3 linked regions of the Homo sapiens genome follow. The protein of the gene in region 2 interacts with the protein of the main gene of each other region in a biochemical or structural test. Each region holds a gene or a part of one and is shown on either strand. Other genes may lie near its edges. The genes, in order: DLG3, GDA and SNTA1.

The links.
Region 1: the proteins of GDA (region 2) and DLG3 form a complex in vitro, tested with the Homo sapiens proteins (2 studies listed by BioGRID and IntAct, with this or other methods).
Region 3: the proteins of GDA (region 2) and SNTA1 interact in a test that uses a peptide from one of them, tested with the Homo sapiens proteins (2 studies listed by BioGRID and IntAct).

Annotation. Positions count from the first base shown.
Region 1 is NC_000023.11:70,440,532-70,447,895, forward strand, and holds the start of DLG3 (disks large homolog 3), read left to right. Parts: upstream 1-4,303; 5' UTR 4,304-4,670; coding exon 4,671-5,027; intron 5,028-7,364. UniProt on the Homo sapiens protein: Required for learning most likely through its role in synaptic plasticity following NMDA receptor signaling.
Region 2 is NC_000009.12:72,145,034-72,152,533, forward strand, and holds the start of GDA (guanine deaminase), read left to right. Parts: upstream 1-4,406; 5' UTR 4,407-4,526; coding exon 4,527-4,649; intron 4,650-7,500. UniProt on the Homo sapiens protein: Catalyzes the hydrolytic deamination of guanine, producing xanthine and ammonia.
Region 3 is NC_000020.11:33,407,434-33,412,851, reverse strand, and holds the end of SNTA1 (alpha-1-syntrophin), read left to right. Parts: exon of another isoform or gene 1-69; coding exon 70-277; exon of another isoform or gene 278-425; coding exon 426-556; coding exon of another isoform or gene 557-666; exon of another isoform or gene 667-2,520; coding exon 2,521-2,717; coding exon of another isoform or gene 2,718-2,749; exon of another isoform or gene 2,750-2,799; intron 2,800-3,963; coding exon 3,964-4,151; intron 4,152-4,252; coding exon 4,253-4,345; 3' UTR 4,346-4,895; downstream 4,896-5,418. UniProt on the Homo sapiens protein: Adapter protein that binds to and probably organizes the subcellular localization of a variety of membrane proteins. May link various receptors to the actin cytoskeleton and the extracellular matrix via the dystrophin glycoprotein complex.

The sequences.
Region 1 (7,364 bases), on a different chromosome or scaffold from region 2:
AAAAAATAAATGAACAGAGCTGGGCACAGTGGCTCACGCCTGTAATCCCAGCACTTTGGGAGGCTGAGGTGGGCAGATCACTTGAGCCCAGGAGTTCAAGACCAGCTTGGGCAACATGGCGAAACCCTGTCTCTATTAAAAATACAAAAATTAGCTGGATGTGGTGATGCACACCTGTAGTCCCAGCTACTCAGGGGGCTGAGGTGGGAGGATCACCTGAGCTTGGGAGATCGGGGCTGCAGTAAGCTGTGATTGTGCCACTACATTCTAGCTTGGGTGACAAAATGAAACAGAGTCTCAAAGAAAAAAAAATGAACAGAGCCTCAGGGATGCTTGGGACTATAACGAAGGACTTAACATTCACATAATTGGAGATGTGGAAGAAGAAGAGAAAGAGCATGGGGCTAAAAAAAATTACTCAAGAAATAATGGCTGAAAATTTGGCAAAAGACATAAATGAACAGGTTCAAGAGGTTGAACAAACCCCAAATAGGATAAACTCAAATTCACCCCAAGGCACATCATAATCAAACTTCTGAAAACTGAAGATGGGAAACTTGAAAGCAGCAAGAGAGAAACAACACCTTACCTACATAGGAAAAGGAATTCAAATGTGGCCAGGTACAGTGGCTAACACCTGTAATTCCAATACTTTGGGAGGCCAAGGTGGGAGGATAACCCAAGGCCAGGAGTTTGAGACCAGCCTGGGCAACATAATGAGACCTCGTCTCTACTAAAAATAAAAAAATTAACCAGGAGTGGTGTGCGCCTATAGTCCCACCTACTGAGGAGCCTGCTTGGGAGACTGAGGCAGGAGGATCACTTTGAGGCCAGGAGTTTCAAGGCTGCAGTGAACTATGGTCACACCACTGCACTCCAGCATGCTATATCTGGTGAAAATATCCTTCAGGAATGAGGGGGAAATCAAGACATTCTCAGACAAAGGAAAGCTAAGATAATTTGTTGCCAGCAGACAAAGAATGGCTAAAGGAAGTTATCAAAACTTACAGATGAATAATGGAACCATTTACATGTAATGAAACTTACATGTAAATGGTTCAGAAAAAGGGATAGATAGATAGATAGATAGATAGATAGATAGATAGAGCATTAACTGGGCATGGTGGCACACACCTGTGGTCCCAGCCACTTGTGAGGCTGAGGTGGGAGGATTGCTTGAGCCCGGGAGTTTGAGGTTGCAGTGAGCCATGATCACGCCACTGCACTCTAACCTGAGTGAGTGAGCAAGACCTACTCTTTAAAAAATATAGATAGATGGATAGATACATAGATACATAGACAGAGCAAATATAACAATCAAAACAAGTCAAATTGTCGACTTGATAAGGAAGGCATACAGTGGTGTCCATTGTACTACTCTTCCAATATTTTTGTATGTTTGTAAATTTTCATTTTTAAAACTGTTGGAGAGGATATGTGGAGGATAGATATATGATAAAGCAAGCATAGCAAAATGTTAATGAGAATCCTAGGCAGTGGGTAATTGGATGTTCACTGTAAAATTCTTTGAATTTTTCTGTATGTTTGAAAACTTTCATATTAAACTGTGGGGGCAAAAAACTTGAAAAAAAAATCACAACTTGGTATCCTCCCCTACCATTCCCAATCCATCTTACTGTGCTCTACTTTTTATTTTTTTCCATGGCACTTATCACCATATACACAGCAGGTGTATATGCTGAATAATGTTGTTTTCTTCAACATCATTTTGTTTTAACATTGATGAGGGGGAAAAAAAAACAACTAAAACGATTCCTGGCCAGAGCCACTGTCTGTGTGGAGTTTGCACACTCTCCCCATGTATGTGTGGGTTTTCTCGGGTATTCCAGGGTACTGCGCTTCCTCCCACATCCCAGTGCACGTTAGGTGAATTGGCGTGTCTAAATTGTCCCAGTGTGAGTGAGTGTGGGTGTGTATGTGAGCGCACCCTGTGATGGAATGGCATCCTGTCCAGGATTGGTTCCTGCCCTGTACCCTGAGCTGCTGTGATAGGCTGTGGCCACCCTTGACCCTGAACTGAAATAAGCAGATTGAAAAATGAATGAATGGATGGATGGATGGATGGATGGATGGATACAAAGTACTGTAAAATAAAAATTTGTCAAGTAGTTGATAATCATACAAATGCACAATAAACTATGAGGTAAGAAAGTGCTCATCGAGCTCACCATATTCGTGATTGTTTGCTTTTGAACTGCATGGTGGTAGGGAGGTGCTCCTTACAATTTTCGCTTTGCATACATTTATTCCTTGATTCAACCCACCACCACTTCCACTGCTGTCACTCACTGGTTCACCAAAGGTTAGGTAATTATTTACTTGTTTTCATTAATCTTTCTATATGTATGCATAGCTCATATTTATTTCAATGTTCAATATCAGAAGTGTTTTGGGTCTTTATTTGGAAGCTGGGTGATGTTTTGTGACCAGAAATATGCTGTAGGAACTTAGCTCTTGTTTATATTAATTAGCCTGTGGTAAAATTGGTTTTGTTATACGTTGTTTCACTTAGTCCCAGTTGCCAAGGACCTACCAATGATGTTAAATGAGGACCTACTGTACTACATAATTCACTTATTTATTGTGTTTATTTTTGTCTGTGTCCTCTCACTAGGAGGTAAGCTCCCCAAGGGCAGGGATTTGTTCTGTTTGTTCTGTTTTATTTTGTTTCCTGCTATATCCCCAAATCCTACAACAGTGTCTGGCACACAGCAAGTGTTCCACGCATATTTGTTGAATTAAGAATGAATCTCTGAGGGCCGGGCACAGTGGATCACACCTGCAATCCCAGCACTTTGGGAGGCCAAGGTGGGTGGATCACTTGACGTCGGGAGTTCGAGACCAGCCTGGCCAACGTGATGAAACCCCATCTCTACTAAGAAAATACAAAAATTAGCCGGGCGTGGTGGCAGGAGCCTGTAGTCCTAGCTACTAGGGAGACTGAGAGGCAGGAGAATCGTTTGAACCTGGGAAGCTGAGGTTGCAGTGAGCTGAGATCACGCCACTGCACTCCAGCCTGGGTGACAGAATGAGAATCCATCTCAAAAAAAAAAAAAAAAAAAAAAAAGAACCTCTGTATCCCTAATACCTAGGTCAAGGTCTTGCACAGAGCAGGTGCTCAATGAATATTTGCTGAATTGAACTGAGATGTAAATTCTGCAGGAGAACTTAGAATAGACCTGTCGTACTAGAGTGGTTCACAGCGTGGACTCTGGAGTCAAATAATCAGGATTTGCATCCTGATTCTGTCACTTCCAGCTGTGTTACCTAGCTGTGTTAACATCTTTGAGCCTCAATTTCTCATTGGTAAAATGAAGATAATAATAGCATCAGCTTGGTAGGATTTGGGTTTGCGTGTTATGCACTTAGGACTTTGTAAAGACCCAATAATTGGTAGCTAAAAACAAAACAAGAACTGCAAAAAAGATAGTCTTTCTTGTATGTCATCCTTCCTCCATTCCCCCGACAAGCTGAGCCAGGAGAGGGTAAGGAGATGTCCTTGGACAAGTATTCCTAAGCTCTATTCCAGACCCATAGAAGGGTTTCTCTCTCTTCAAATCCCTTCTTACCTTTTCACCTGTCCTGGACTTTCATCTTGATATCCTGAAGTTCCTTCCCCCATCATAACCATGCAGGGGTGGAGTGGAGGAGATAGGGGTTTGTGGGCCAGGGACAAGGACTTAGAGCTTTCTGTTAATCCCTGTTCTAGGGTTGAGTTCTTTACTGGTGATGGTAGAAGGTCAAGTGTGAGGTCACAGTAATTTCAGGGCCTAGAGACTGAGAGAACAATAGTCTTGTGTAGGAGGCATTGACAGGACAGCGGGCCTCATATGCTGCCTTCTTCTTTGGTCCCCTGTAAGAGAAAGCACCTCCCTCACCCTGCTCCAACGTCCTTTCTGTCCATCCTGCTACCTCGTCTTTACTTCTGGTGGCCCCAGCTCAGAGCAAGCCTGGGGACCCATTGAACATCTCCCTGCAACTCCCTCTTGGAAGTGGGGTGGGGTGGAGTGGGCAGAGGACAGGCTAAAACTGGCGATATAAGGGCACAAGATCGGGTGCCTGAGCTTTCTGGTGGCCCACGTCCTCTGCCCCCGCCCTTAGAGCCAACAGTTCCCTAGAGATTGGGGGAGCTGGGGCTGAGCCTGGGGGCGCCGCTGCCTCTGTTCCTTTAAGTAGCCGCTGTTTAGCATTCCTGCCGCCGCCGCTGCCGCTGCCGCTGCCTGCCTCTGCGCGCTGATTGGCTGGAATCAACTGAGAAGGGAGCCAGGGAGAGATGCTCTTGACTCCACTCAGATCCATCCTGGGGACCAGAGCAGAAGCGGTCCTCACAGCACCCATTCTCTGCTTGAGCTCCCGCTTCTTCTTTGCCGCTGGGCCTCGGCCCAGAAGCCACGACGGGCGACACGGAGCCGCCAGTGCTGGAGGGGGAGCCGTGGGTGCGGGGCAGCGTGGGGGCCGAGGCCCCGGGACGCCCGCCCGGCCCCAGGCCCCGCTCAGCCCGGGCGCCCCCACGGGTGCCCCCCCCTTCTTGGTCCGAGCAGTGTGAGTGTGCCAGGGAGCCCGGCGGCGGCGGCGGCGGTGGTGGCGGCGGTGGCGGCGGCGTGGAATCCGGCGTGGGCTGGGGGGTCCGAGCCGCGGGGGGCAGTGCCATGCACAAGCACCAGCACTGCTGTAAGTGCCCTGAGTGCTATGAGGTGACCCGCCTGGCCGCCCTGCGGCGCCTCGAGCCTCCGGGCTACGGCGACTGGCAAGTCCCCGACCCTTACGGGCCAGGTGGGGGCAACGGCGCCAGCGCGGGTTATGGGGGCTACAGCTCGCAGACCTTGCCCTCGCAGGCGGGGGCCACCCCCACCCCTCGCACCAAGGCCAAGCTCATCCCCACCGGCCGGGATGTGGGGCCGGTGCCTCCTAAGCCAGTCCCGGGCAAGAGCACCCCCAAACTCAACGGCAGCGGCCCCAGCTGGTGGCCAGAGTGCACCTGTACCAACCGGGACTGGTATGAGCAGGTATGGACCAGCGGAGGGGGGAGCGGTGGGGCAACCCAGGAGGGCTGGAGAGTGGGGGCCTAGAGGCCTGGGATGCAGTAGGGGTCGCTGGGGCTCCAAGCCTGTGGACCCCGAGCCCTAGCATTGCAGCTGGGCAAAGAGAGGCGGTGGGAAATGTGTGGTTCCCTGTGTGTGTCTGTTTGGGGGTCTCCATTAGAAGACTGGGAGGAGCCGTGTGTCAGGGGGTAAGGGCATGGCGGAGGGGCACATTTTCCTGTGTGGGGGAATTGGGTTTGTCTCAGTGTGGGGGTTTGGCAATGTCTCTGTGTCTGGCAGGGGGCGGGAGGTTCTGCGGGGGCTGTGTGTGGTGTGTGTCTCCACCGGAGGGGAGGGGAGGGGGCATGGTGCTCTGCGTAGGGGGGACATATGTGTGTGTATGTATGTTGGGGTGTGTGGAGGAAGGCAATGGAGCTGCCGTGAATCCGTGTGGAGGAGCCCATGTGCCCGGCTCGCTGAGCTTCATCCCTTGATGCCATGAGTCCCTCTCCGTCCCAGTCCCTTTGTGTGTGAATGTGCACATGGATGTGTGGAGATGTCACTCTGAATGTGGAGAGGTCTCTGTAGAGGAGGCTGCAGGGATGGCTGTGTTTGTGTGTGTGGCTACATGTATATGTGTGTGAGCATGTGGCTGCAAGAGTGTGCACGCGTGTGCCTGGTGTGTGTGTGTGAGTGTGTGTTTGTATGTGTTGTCTCTGGTGAGAGGCGCTTGACAGGCAAGGGAGGGGAGAGGAAGGAGGCGAGAGACATGTCCCAAGCAAGGCTGAGAGGCTGCTGAGAAGGACGGACTCTTTTGTCCAAGCAGCTCTGTAGTGTGTGTGCCGGGGTGGGGTGGCGGGGGGCGGGGGGAGATTTGAAGGAACTGAAGCAAGCCTCCTCGCTCTAGAGCAGGCATGGTGCCTGGAGCCGGCAAGGGGCAGCTGCCCTGGTGCAGAGACTGGCCCCAGTGGGGCATGTCCCCCTTGGGTACCTCCAGATGTGAGAGGGCTTAGCCCCCCAGCCCTGACTTGGCACAGCTTGGGAGCCCCTGGGTGCTGGGCACAACTCCGGCTTCCACTCCCAGCCTAAACTGCCAGCTTAGAAAATGGAAGGAGCATCTGTGGGAGAAGCAGCAAAATGGAGGCTGGGCTGGCAGAGCCAGGTCCCTGGCACGCAAGGCGGAGGGCCTGTCTGGTTATCCGGCTCTGCAGCTCCTAGGGTGGGGAGAGAGGAAGAGGAGGCTTTGCTGTCGAGGGCAGGTGATGACTTCCCCAAGCTGGTGACCGTTCTGGCTGCCTCTGTCCTCTGGGGATAGGATGTGCTCTCACTCAGAGGCAAAGGTGGGGACTTCCTGGGGAGAAGAGCCCTCAGTTCTGGCCTTCTGTCTGTCCACACTTACTGCTTTCCCACATCCCTTGCCTTGGCCTCTTGCCCTTTCCAGCGAGTCCCTCTCTCTCCTTTGCCCCCTCTCTGTCCTGGAGGCCTTTCTCTCGCAAACACCCTCTTATGCTTGTCCTGCCCGGCTGGGAGACAGGTGGCAATCCCAGGCTGGGCCAGTTGGCCAAGGTTTCTTTGCCAGGGCTGATCCCTGGATGGCTCCTGGCCCTGAGAACAAGGTCCTTGAGTAGGGGTGGGGGCTAGAGCGTGGACCACTGGGAACGGGAAGCCTCTGGGTACCACTGGGGCTGGGCTTGAGGCATGGCTTGTCACATGTGGGCACACATGGTACACCAAATGCACACAAGAGCCACATGGGTGTCCCTTTGCTTATGTGTCTGTTGCATGGTACTTAAGGCAGCTGTGTTGGTTTCGGGTCTCTAAGGAGCCTTCAGTTCTTCTTCCTGGGGTCACAGACCAGGGTAAGGCTGTAGCTGGAGTCCTCCCACCAACTCCCACAGCTGCAGAGCCAGCCCAGAAATGGTGGAGGCATGATGAGCTAGTCCTCTCTCCCTCTCCTCCTCTCTGCTTCTTGAAGCCAAAGCTGTGTGGGGTGGAGGTGGGACGGGGGAAGCACAGCAGGACATGTGGAGGAGCCCCCACCCTGGTTTCCAGCTCCCCACTTCTGAGGAGGAGGCTAGAGGTCAGGGAAGGGACAACATAGCCAGAGAAAGGTGGGGGAGGGGTGCCAGGGTACCTGGGGAGACAGGCAAGAGGGCTTCTCCATTCTTGGAGGTGAAAGTGGGAGCCAGCAGGCAGGTGCTGCTTGTATGTCCAGAATCACATTTTCACTTGACAAATAGATACACACATGTCCTGTCTGGGAGGCCATCTCTGTGGGTTGGCCAAATCACCCCTGTGTTTCTGACCCCTTCCCTTGCCTCT
Region 2 (7,500 bases):
TCTCCTAGATAAGAGAGGAAAAGTGGCCTCTCATTTAAACTGCTTCCCTGCACTCTCTGTACCTCATGAAAACCTGAGTTATTTTCGATAGCCCATTCTACTGACCTACGCTGATTGGATTCCTGTTTTTCTCAAGGCCCATTATTCCCTTTAGTTTTACTGCAGGCTAGATCTGAGTGTCACCAGCAACTGTTGGAAAACCATGTACAATGTGAAAGTTGTAGATGACAGCCCACAGTGCAGTGGCCAAGTGAGTCATGGCAAAACTGAATGAACAATTCCTGGGAGTTTACTGTGATGAGACAATGTATGAGAACAACTGGACTCAAGATCCAAGTCCATCCTATATTAACTGCACAGGCAAGCCAACCTCCCTGAACCCCAGTTTCCCCATCTGTGGAATGTTTAAAATACATCCTCTTCCTATTTTATAGGGTTGTTGAGAGGCTCAAAATTAGATAATAGAGGAGAAAGCCTTTTCAAACAGTCAGGTTCTATCTAGCAAAAAGGACTGACTGACTAAGCTACAGGTATAATTACATTCATGAGATGAGCAAAATGTCAAAGCTAATCATGCTATGGTCTAGGTTTTGGCCTCAGGCAATTGGAGGTTTAGAACACGATGATCCCACCCCAGTAGTTGGGGAATTTGGGGGCTACTTGGCTCCATCTGAAATAGAGAAAATTGAGATTGTAAGAAATGAAGCTTTAAAATTTTTCTCTATGTCTGAACATTCTCATAAAATGTTGGAAAACTAAATAAATGAAATAAAACTCATCCTTAAGTTCTAGTCCCAATGAATTGTTCACCATTAGCAGACACCCACTATAGCCTCTTAATTTTTATGACTAAAATATAGGCACTAGAGCCATCTCCTGCAATTCAATATTCATATAAATCTATTGAGCACCTCCTAGTGACCAGGGACTGTGTTAAGGGGATGGATACACAGAAAGAAAGAGGACATGGTCCTTCAGAAAAACACATCTTCTTTGGGGTATAGATGAGTAATGGAACAATTACAGCACACCCACAAACTCAGGGGAGGAACACTTAACACTCTAGAGCAGAAATGTAAAGATATCCTGGATAAAGGTGAGGGGGGGTTGGGGGTTGGGGGAGTGGGTGGGACAATGAGGCAGACATGGTGTAAGGTGGTAAAAGGGCACCACAGGCAGAGAGAAGAGTGTGAGCAAAGCGGATTCATAGCATATGGGAGAGTGGAGGTAGCCAAGCCTGAAGAAGCAGCCAGGGAATATTCCATGCCAAGGCGGGGCTCTTTTTTTCTGAAGGAAGTGATATGTGGGGGTGGAGCACTAATGATGCTTGGGCTGTATTTTGAGGGTGAATATGAAAGCTCTGTACTCCCTCTTTCCTCCAAACCTCTGTAGCCAGGAGAATATTTCCCTGGGGATACCAGAATGGGAGTCAAAATTGCAGGAGGACCAGCAATTTAAAGGAGTTGCCACCTCCGAGAGTGGAGTCTCACCCTGTTGCCCACGCTGGAGTGCAGTGGTTCAATCCTGGCTCACTGCAATCTCTGCCTCCCGGGTTCAAGCGATTCTCCTGCTTCAGCCTCCCTAGTAGCTGGGACTACAGGTGTGCGCCACCACACTTGGATAATTTTTTATATTTTTGGTAGAGACGGGGTTTCACCATGTTGACTAGGCTGGTCTCGAACTCCTCACCTCAAGTGATCCGCCCTCCTCAGCCTCCCAAAGTGCTGGGATTACAGTCATGAGCCACCATGCCTGGCTGGGAAGCCAAGACTTCTGGCATGTGGCTGAGCCATGCTGCCTGGCAGTATAGCACCCAGGGCTTCTGGATCCTGGGCCCAGGTACCTACAACTTGACTGGGAATGGAAGTGGAACTATGCATTGCTCAAAAGAGCTAAAATTTACCTGAGGAGCACTAATGCCATGTCACCTGGAGGTTCATGGCCAATCCTTCTGCTTAAGACGATTAATTTCTTTAAAAGCATCATAATGATTATTCATCCTATAAACCACATAGTAACAACATTAAAAAAATCAAAACAAAATTCTCTACCTAGCAATTCCATTATCTCAACAGAACAACACACATTGTTTGATGTACCTTTTCAATTCCAGCAAATATGCTTATAGCTTTTCATGGTTTTCATCGTAGCATAGAAGCTGTTTTTTGTTTGTTTGTTTTGTTTTGTTTTTTTGAGACCGAGTCTTGGTCTGTCACCAGGCTGGAATGCAGTGGCGTGATCTCAGCTCACTGCAACCTCCGCCTCCGGGGTTCAAGCAATTTTCCTGCCTCACCCTCCTGAGTAGCTGGGACTACAGGCACGCATCACCACACCCAGCTAATTTTTGTATTTTTAGTAGAGATGGGGTTTCACCATGTTGGCCAGGATAGTCTCAATCTCGACCTCGTGATCCACCCGCCTCGGCCTCCCAAAGTGTTGGGATTACAGGCGTGAGCCATCGTGCCCAGCCAGAAGCCATTTTTGAAAGCTTAACATTGTGGCTATATATTTCTCCTGTTGTTTTTAATAACTGTATAATGTTCTATCAAGTAGATATATTCTAGTTCATAAAACTAGTCTCTATTTTTTTTTTTTGACATTTAGGTTTTCATTAAAACCTAATCATCAAAAAAATTATTAACCGTATCTGTTTTAGGAAAGTAATACATCTGTTGGAAACATCTGATTGAATCCTATCTCAAAAGCCATTTTCTTCACCTTTCTGTCTGAGGTTTTTGTGTATACAAGGGAATGTTTTCAGTGTGCTGGCTGTCGGTACTGCCAGGAGGGAGTGCAGTTGGCAGAATCAGGAGAAAGTGACAAGGAGCAGGGACAAGTGTAATGACCTCAGCTGCAGAGATTCCTAATTCTGGATCCCTGGTAGGGTGATCAACCATCTGTGTGCATGGTTCTGACGGTTTTCCTGAACGGCCTTTCAGTGCTAAAACCAGGAAAGTGCCTGGTAAACCAGGATTTGTTGGTCACCTTAGACATTGGTTATGGGGGAGCTGAAGGAACTGAGAAGGGAACGAATCATTTCTATAAGCCAGCCCTGTGTCTTAAAAGCAGCAATTCAGAGAAAAACTGCTCACACACTGCAATGAAACCCTCACCCTTTATGTAGTTGTCAAAATAGTTATTTGTCTCAGGTTATGGCTCTGCTCACAGAAAAACCATCCATTCATTTATTCAATAAACATGTATGGAACACCGGCATTGTTCTAGGCATAAGACACATTCCCTGCTCCTGTGGTGCTTCTGTTATTGGTGTGTGTATGTGTGTGTGTGTGTGTGTGTGTGTGTGTGTGTGTGTGTGTGTATTGGTGAGAGGGAAACAGGAGTAAACTAAAAAACACAAAATAAAGAAGAATGGACACAATAAATGCAATGGCAGAAACAAGATGGATTAGTGGAGTAGAAACTGCTGGGAGTCCGGTGCCACTTGGTGGTCAGGAAAGGTGACTCCGAAGAGCCTGACATTTGAGACAAATCAGTGGTGAGAAGAGCTGCCAAGTAAAGCGCCACAAGAGGGATTAGGGGCAGAAGGAACAGCACGTTAGAGGGCCCTGAATGGAAGCCAGCTGGGTTTCATGGAGGAACTTAGTGAAGGACCCTGTGGTCATTGTGTAGGGTGGGAACGCTGACCCTAGTTATGACCCAGTCCAAGCTCCATTTTCATAAGTGGGGATGATAAGCACACTGAGGCCCACGTGTCTTGTCCACAGTCTCTTGATTCCCAATTCAGCACCCATGGTACCATTGCTGCCTATTTGACTTGAGAACTTAATTTTCTCCCTTTGTACAACTGGAAGTAAATAAAAGAGATTCATTCATTTTACACGAGAAAAATTGGTATTGGAATTGTTTGCGGACAAACACAAGAACCAAAAACATTAGCCTCAAGGTGAAGAGAGGAACCTTGGCGTCCACAATGACACCCAGTTTAGGGGTCCCCAGAGATGTTCGGTAAGACATGCTTCCAGAACCTTCCAGGTGAGGACCAATACTAATTCTGCAGTCTACATAAACTAAAAATGAAACTGGTCATAAGGTAGGCAGCCCCAGCTGACCTTTCACCTGTGCCTGAACTAATGCAAGTACAGGACCTGAGTGCTACAGGTTGAAGAAGTAAGTGATCCTAGGAGTTGAAGGGTCAGAGGAGCCAGGCTGACACAACTCATAGAAGGTGGAGGAAGCTGATCTTCTGAGCCTCAGCTGTGGTTGATCTTGATAACTCAAAGAGTTAACACAACCAAAACTAACGCAAGGGTGGAGAGAAAGACCACACCCCACGGGAGCGCGGAGCCAACTCGCGGGAGAAAAATCCTATTGGCATTGAGGAGGTAGGGAGCCAGCCCCTGGGCGCGGCCTGCAGGGTACCGGCAACCGCCCGGGTAAGCGGGGGCAGGACAAGGCCGGAGCCTGTGTCCGCCCGGCAGCCGCCCGCAGCTGCAGAGAGTCCCGCTGCGTCTCCGCCGCGTGCGCCCTCCTCGACCAGCAGACCCGCGCTGCGCTCCGCCGCTGACATGTGTGCCGCTCAGATGCCGCCCCTGGCGCACATCTTCCGAGGGACGTTCGTCCACTCCACCTGGACCTGCCCCATGGAGGTGCTGCGGGATCACCTCCTCGGCGTGAGCGACAGCGGCAAAGTAAGCAGGCGCGGGGTCGAGCGCACTCCGACGGGCGGGAGGATAGGTGCAAGGAACCTGGCGCGGTGCTTCGCGTAGCCCGGGGTTCGCTCGGTGCGCAGTGAGCGCCGCGGCTCCGGAGTTGAACTTGAGTCTTTGGCTCTTGGGCAACGCAGAGAGAACCCTGGCGCTAGGTTCGTGGGCTGGCTGGGGAGTTCCCAGAAGTCGGGAGCAGTGGCGTGCTAACGCCACAACTGGCTCGACAGCAGTCCGGGCTGCGGTAGAGCCGGGAGCAAGGATGTCACCCCCCGCTCCCCCGCCCCCCGTTCCAATCCTAAGATACCGGCAATAATCTTCAATCTTGCTTAAATCATCTTTGTTTCCAACACCTAGCACTGTGCCTGGCACAGGAGGCTCTCCATAAATGTGGTTGAATTTATTGTGAAAGAAATAAGAGGAGGGGGTCATTTGATTGATGTTGTTTAGCGTGTCCAGAACATAGAATAAATAGAACTGATTACATTCACCCTATCATTCAACAGAGATAATATACTAACGATGAAGGTTCCACAACTTGTAATACTAGAAGGGATGGTCCGAAAGAAATAATTCATCCATCTCTTTTCCTTCCTCTCTCTCTCTTATACACACACGCGTACACACACACACACACACGCACGCACACACACACACACACCATAGCCATTTGCATCAAAGCAAGCAGTTCCATTTTAAGGTTCAAAATGTCTTCTTTGAATGTATCTTTTACACTTCCTTTTCCAAAATCAGGATTTCTACAAATGACACAGGTAACTTGATGTCTACTATTTACTGTTCCATACACACATATAGTGACTATATCAGCCATGGCCTGGCAAGTTTGATAAGTGAAGCCATTCCATTTTTTAGAACAAAAAAATGATAAAATAAATATGGAGATGGGATTTTTTGAGCTGTTTTCCAACTACTGGTTTGGTTAGCAAAAGTACACATACTTGTGATTTGTCAAGTTGAAGATACTATTCTTGACTAAGATGCTACCGAGTCGGTGACAGTTTTGAATCGTGACTCTTACATTTGGGGGTAACTAAACACTGTTTTCTCATGGTGCTTTAAAAAATACTCTTTCTATGCACGTTCAGGGAGCCTGCTGTTGTGTTTCCAAGGTGATAAAACTCTCAGAGCTCTCCCAGGGAGATTCCGGTAAACCCTGAGACTGATGAACCCATGCTTGGGGACTTGGTCCTCAAGTTTCAGGGAACTCAGGTTTGGGGCAAGTCCCAGGAAGCAAAGGAACGGAGATTGCTAAACTGGTGTAAGATTAGAGGTGTTATTTTAATCACAAGAAGCTGTTCAACTCTTGGGTTTCTTTTTTAAAAATTAATTTCCCATATCCAGAATTGTAATTGGTAGGGTAACAGGCAACTGGTTTTACCAGTGGAGAGGAATAAGAAAAGGAAGTAATAAAAATACCTTTTCTGGTGCTTGTACAGAAGAAGAATAAAAGAGTTTCCCAAACACACAATTAGTAGTTGAGTCAGGGAGTCTATTCCTCACTAAAAATCATACTGAAGTTATAAATTTAGAAAACATGCCCTTCCCCCACAAGACAAAATGACTTAGGAATTGAATACAAAGGTGAGTTAGTCAGTGGCTGGAATGTATGGTACAGAGCTCCTGAACCAGTGGATTGCTAACTGTTGCTCTCCTCTCCTCCTAGGTGCAAGGCAGTTGATACCTGGCTGTGTTTAAAGAGAGAGCATGCCATACATATTTCAAAACTTGACATCCCCCATTTCAAAATGGAGAGTATCTTACTTTTAGAGTTGCTGGGATAAATATATTATTTATTTAAACATTTCAAGGTTCAAAAAAGAAAATAATACGCCTTTGGAATACAGAAATATGTTGAATTATTATGATCTGTAATTTTTTTTTTGGTTTTTTTTTGTTTGTTTTTTTTTGAGATGGAGTCTCGCTCTGTCACCCAGGCTGGAGTGTAGTGGCTTGATCTTGGCTCACTGCAAGCTCTGCCTCCCGGGTTCATGCCATTCTCCTGCCTCAGCCTCCCGAGTAGCTGGGACTACAGGCGCCACCACGCCCCACTGATTTTTTTGTATTTTAAGTAGAGTTGGGGTTTCAATGTGTTAACAGGATGGTCTTGATCTCCTGACCTCGTGATCCCCCTGCCTCGGCCTCCCAAAGTGCTGGGATTACAGGCGTGAGCCACCGCGCCGGCCAATGATCTGTAAATTTTTACTCCTAAATTTTTAGGAGCTCAAACCTTGCAATGAATCAGAAATATCTAGGGGTGCTTGATAATATGCTGATTTCTGGGCATCATCCTCAGAGACTCTGAATCTATAGACCTGGGGTAGGCCCCAGAAAGTGGCATTCCAACAAGCATCCCAGGAGATTCAGACGCAGGTAGCGGGTGGATTATAGCAGCGGGTGGATTACATTTTGAATAACTGTAACACATAGTTTCTGTGATGGGACAAGCTGTGTGAAGTATCAGGAGCTTATTTCTCCATTGCAAGTTTAGATCTGGGGTAGAATCTCAGCGAGAGGGCACAAAGCTTACTCTGTCCTTCTGGTCTCGCTTTTAAACTTTATTCCTTATTTTGTATAACTTCGTTTAGGCCCAGAGAATGCCAATGACTAACTGCTCTTAATACATTAAATTAAAGCTCATTCAAAAGCAGGTTAATTAAAAGAAATTATCTAGCCAACTTTTTGGTATAAAGCAAAATACAGAGTTATACTTTCTGCTCAAGTAGCATGTAGCTTTTAAGAATATAGACTCTAATGATTGCCATTCTAACTGGTGTGAGCTGATATCTCATTGTGGTTTTGATTTGCATTTCTCTGA
Region 3 (5,418 bases), on a different chromosome or scaffold from region 2:
TCTTGGGCCAGGGTTGGGCAGCTGCAGCCTAATGGTCAGGTCCTTGTCTCCACCCATTTGTGCCTGCAGGTATCTGGAGATCTGCTCGGCAGATGGTCAAGACACCCTCTTCCTGAGGGCCAAGGATGAGGCTAGTGCGAGGTCGTGGGCGACTGCCATCCAAGCCCAGGTCAATACTCTGACGCCGCGGGTCAAGGATGAGCTGCAGGCACTGTTGGCAGCCACCAGCACAGCTGGGAGCCAGGACATCAAGCAGATTGGCTGGCTAACTGAGCAGGTACCTGCTGGGCCTGGGACCTATCCCTCTCTCTCTTCCGCTCCTTTGGAGCTGGCCCTGTTCCCAGTGCCCCTGGCCACCTCACCCTGCCCTGGCCCTCTGCCCTCTCTTCCCCCACCCATCCTCACTGCTGTTTTGTTCTCTGCAGCTGCCCAGTGGGGGCACAGCCCCCACCCTGGCCCTGCTAACTGAAAAGGAACTGCTCCTCTACTTGTCTCTCCCCGAGACCCGCGAGGCCCTGAGCCGGCCAGCCCGTACTGCCCCACTCATCGCCACCAGGTACCCACAGGCAGGGGCAGTATGTCTCCCCCAGAACTTGCCAGGAGATGCTCCAGCAGGGCCCCAGAAGCTGGGAACTCCAGCCCTGTCCACCCTCAGCTATTCCCCAGGTGACCTGAAGCAAGTCTCTGCCCTGTCTGGGCCTCAGTTTCCTCATCTGTAAAATGGGTGCTTGGAACAAAAGGATATAAGGTCCCCATTAGCCACTCATTCGCTGACACTTATGCCTTGTGCTGCATGGTTCAGAGGGCACAGAGCTGACCCCAACAGTTTCTGCCTCCAGAGAGAACCTTGTCTGGCTGGGGAGACAGACCCAGGAACAGCCATTACAGTGCAGGGTTTGTAGGAGCCACTTAACTCTGTTGGGGTAGTAGAGGAAGGCTTCAGGGAGGAGGTGACATTTGAGCTGGACTTTGATGGATGAGTAGAAGTTTTCTGTTTAAGAAAGGGTGAAAGAGCATCCCATGCAGAGAGAACATCATGGTCAAAAGTACAGAGGCATGAAGGGCTATAGCATGTTCATGGAGCTATGAGTTTGTGATAACCAGAATTCATGCAGGAAATGGAGAGAAGGGAGTTGGCAGGGCCTGATCTTGAAGAGCTTCTATTGCCTGATTAAGGAATGTTAGCTTTAGCTTAAGAGTTTGGTAGTGTTGAAGGGTTTAAGCTGGGGAGCGAGGTGCTCTGGTTGCTTTAAGAGAATCCCTGTGGCTGCCACGTGGAGAATGCAGCGGAGAGTGCAGGATGGAAGTGGGGAGGTGCTGCAGTCATGCAGGAGAGATGATGGTGGCTGGGGGAGGTGGAGGTGGGTGGCAGGAGCAGATGGGGAAGAAAGGCAGCATTGGCATTGGAAACCACATGGGTGTAAAATTAACAGGGCTCCGTGCTTGCCAGATGGGGCGGGTGAAGGAGGGGTCCGGAATGAACAGGAGGTTTGGAGCTTGTGTCTGGGTGAGCGTGGGACTGGGGGTGGGGGTGGAAAGGGAGGAGGCTGGAGCAAGATGCTGAGTTAAGTCCAGAGTGTGTGTGGGATGGAGAGGGAGCTTGGATAGGAAGCCTGGGGACTCGAGGGTCTGCAGCTCAGGGCTGGAAAGTCGAAGGCGGGTGTCAGCAGCAGTCTGTGGCGGGGGGAACTGAGCTATAGGAGAAAGAGTGGGTGGAGGGAGGAACAAAGAGGGATATGGGGCAGAACTTTCTGCCCCAGAGAGGGGCAGTTGGCTTACCAAGGCCACACAGCAAGTGAGAGTCAAGCTGCAGGGGTCTGAAGTCCTTGTCCCCCATGTCTCCTTACCTCAGGCTGGCTCTGGCCCGTGTGTCAGGAGCCTGCTGGCTACTAGGGATAACTAGGTCCTGGACTGTCTGCCTAATCAAGTGATTCAAGTTAGGCAACAAAAGTTTACTGAGCACCTACTGTGGGCAGGCATGGTTTTAGTTACTGGGAATACAGTGGTGAACACAAGATCAAAATTTCTAACCTAGTTGACATTCTAGTGAAAAAGACAGTCAAAAACCAACGAAAACAAATAATAAAAAGTATAATTTCTGGTACCATGATTAAAAAGTAAGGCTAGTGAGTGACAAGGGTGCTATTTTGGACTGGGAGGTCAGGGAAGGCTTCTCAGAGGAGGTGACATTTAAACTAACATCTGAAGGAAGTGAGGGAGTGAGCCGTGCAGATAATCAGGGAAGCATGTATAGGCAGAGGGAAGAGCATATGCAAAGGTGCTGAGGCAGGCATGTGCTAGGTGTGTGTGATGACACCAGTATAGCCAGAGCCAAGGGAGTGACGGGGAGGGTGGCAGGAGATGTCTCCTGCTGAGTCAATCAGTGCCCCCTGGCAAGTCCTGTCCTGTTAGGTGGTAAAGGATTTACAGGGTTTCTTCCCAGGTCACTGGCCCCTTTGCCCAGAACTATTTGCCTCCGGCCTGAGGCCTCATGCTCAGCCCTCTGCCCCCAACCCCCAGACTGGTGCACTCAGGCCCCTCCAAGGGCTCAGTGCCCTACGATGCAGAGCTCTCTTTTGCCCTGCGCACGGGCACGCGTCACGGTGTGGACACTCACCTGTTCAGCGTGGAGTCACCGCAGGAGCTGGCTGCCTGGACCCGCCAGCTTGTGGATGGCTGTCACCGGGCCGCCGAGGGTGTGCAGGAGGTGTCTACAGGTGTGCTGGGAGGATCTGGGAGTGTCCCTCTGGTAATAAGCCTCTTATCCCCAGGGGCATTCAAGCTTCCTTCTTTAGGGCACTTCAGGAGGGGATAGAAAATGGGGTTTGGAGGTCAAGGTGGGTGGATCACCTGAGGTCAGAAGTTTGAGACCAGTCTGGCAAACATGGCAAAACCCTGTCTCTACTAATAATACAAAAATTGGCCAGGTGCGGTGGCTCACGCCTGTAATCGCAGCACTTTGGGAGGCTGAGGCGGGTGGATCACTTGAGGTCAGCAGTTTGAGACCAGCCTGGCCAAAATGGTGAAACCCTGTCTCTACTAAAAATACAAAAATTAGCCGGGCATGGTGGTGGGCGCCTGTAGTCCTAGCTACTCGGGAGGCTGAGGCAGAATTGTTTGAATCTGGGAGGTGGAGGTTGTAGTGGGCCCAGATTGTGCCACTGCACTCCAGCCTGGGCGACAGAGCAAGACTGTCTCAAAAAAAAAAAATAATAATACAAAAATTAGCCGGGCATGGTACTAGGTGCCTGTAGTCCCAGCTACGCAGGAAGCTGAGGCACGAGAATCACTTGAACCCGGGAGATGGAGGTTGTGGTGAGCCGAGATTGCGCCCACTGCACTCCAGCCTGGGTAACAGAGTGAGACTGTTTCTCCAAAAAAAAAAGGAAGTTGGGTTTGGGCCCTCTGTTTTGGATGTGCAGGTGCCCTAGCAGGCAGAGACTCTTCTCCCTGGGGTTTTCTTGCCCCAGTTTTGTCAATCTGCTGGTGAGGATGTGAGAGATGGCACTTGGGGTAGGGTTGCCAGAGGAAATAAATACAGGACACCCAGCCTCATTTGAATTTCAGGTTAACAATGAATACTTTTTTCACAGAAGTATGCCCAAATTAGTCATTGTTTATCTGAAATTTAAATTTAGCCGGGTAACTCTGCAGGTCTCCAAGGGCGGTGCTTGGTAGATCTGATGATGCCTTTATCAGCAGTGAGCCTCCTGTCCATGGCACATTTTAAGCTCCCCCTTTCTACTTGTGCTGCTGGAAGTGGGACTGGAAGTGGGTGTAGGTCCTCTGAGGGTGGGGGTGATGACTCTCTGCAGGGTGGGTGTACTGGTGCCACGACAAACAGTGAGCCTCCCATCCCTGGAGGCATTCAGGCCCCACTTTGTAAGCTGCGGTGGGGGTTGGAGGTTGGGGTGTAGTCTCTGAGGTGCCAGCTGTGCCTGTACCTATGTGCCCTCCCTGCAGCCTGCACGTGGAATGGGCGTCCCTGCAGCCTGTCTGTGCACATCGACAAGGGCTTCACACTGTGGGCGGCTGAGCCAGGTGCAGCCCGAGCTGTGCTCCTGCGACAGCCCTTCGAGAAGCTGCAGATGTCTTCAGATGACGGTGCCAGTCTCCTTTTCCTGGATTTTGGAGGTGCTGAAGGCGAGATCGTGAGTGAGGGGCTGCCTCTGCACCCTGGGGAGGAGGGGGTGTGCACTCTCGGAGGCCAGGCTGGCCAGGGCCCTGACTCTTCTCTCCATCCACCCTCCAGCAGCTGGACCTGCACTCGTGTCCCAAAACCATAGTCTTCATCATCCACTCCTTCCTGTCGGCCAAAGTCACCCGCCTCGGGCTGTTGGCCTAGAAGTCGCCGGATGCACTAGCCCTGAAGAGGGGTGTCCATGACATGGCCTGAGCTGGGCCTCCACCGACTGCCTGCTCACCCCTGGGCTGAGGGAAGGGAGAGGAGAGGAACAAGGGCCTCCGAAACCCCAACCCTGAGGGAGACTGGATTGGTCTTGGGGCCCAGGACCCAGACGCAGGACAGAGTGGACTCTGCCTGTGATGGGGTGGCCTTCCTGCTGCCCCCCTCCACCAGTGCCTTTTGCAGAGAGATATTTTGTGTACACAGAAGCCATTCCGAGTCTGGGACCTGCCCCTGTGCGGATCCTGACCCCAGCCAACAGCTGAGCTGCCGGGCCTCCTCGAGGCCCCTAAGCCACCCCCAGAGGTCCCATCTGAAGCTGGAGTACCCTGGGGTCAGCAGCAAGAGAAAGAAGAGGAGATTTTCTGTTTGTTTTTCCCCTCAGCCCTGCCACCGTGGGGAGTCTGGTTTTTCTCTTCATCCTGTCTCTCTCCTCCTTACTCTTGGATAAATAAACAGCCTGTGAGCACACAGGCAGCCCGGCCCAGTGTATGTGGTCTGTGCCTTGGCCTTTGGGTCCTGGGGTGGCCCCTGCAGTCCCAAGATGGACCAGACCAAGGACTAGGGCACCTTTCCCTGGAGAAGAACAGACCTTTACTACATGGGCCAAAGACAGTGTATTGGTTATCTATTGTTGTGTGACAAATTATCCAAAATTTGCAGCTTAAAATGACAAATATTCATTATCTCTTAGGTTCTGTGGGTCAGAAATTTGAGAGGGGCTAAGCTGGGCTGTTCTTGTCTCAGGGTCGCTCATGAGGTTGCAGTCAAGTTGTCGGCTAGGGCTGCAGTCATCTGAAGGCTTGACTGGGGCTGGAGGATCCATTCCAATACTGCTCATGCACATGGCTGTGGGTAGGAGGTCTCAGTTCCTCACCATGTAGGGCTAACCCTAGAGCTGCTGCTTGAGTTTTCTCATGATATGGCAGTTGGCTTTCCCCACAGTGAGACAGAAGAGAGGGCAAGGAGGAAGCCACAAACAGTGCCTCTTATGACCCGGTCTTGGAAGCCTT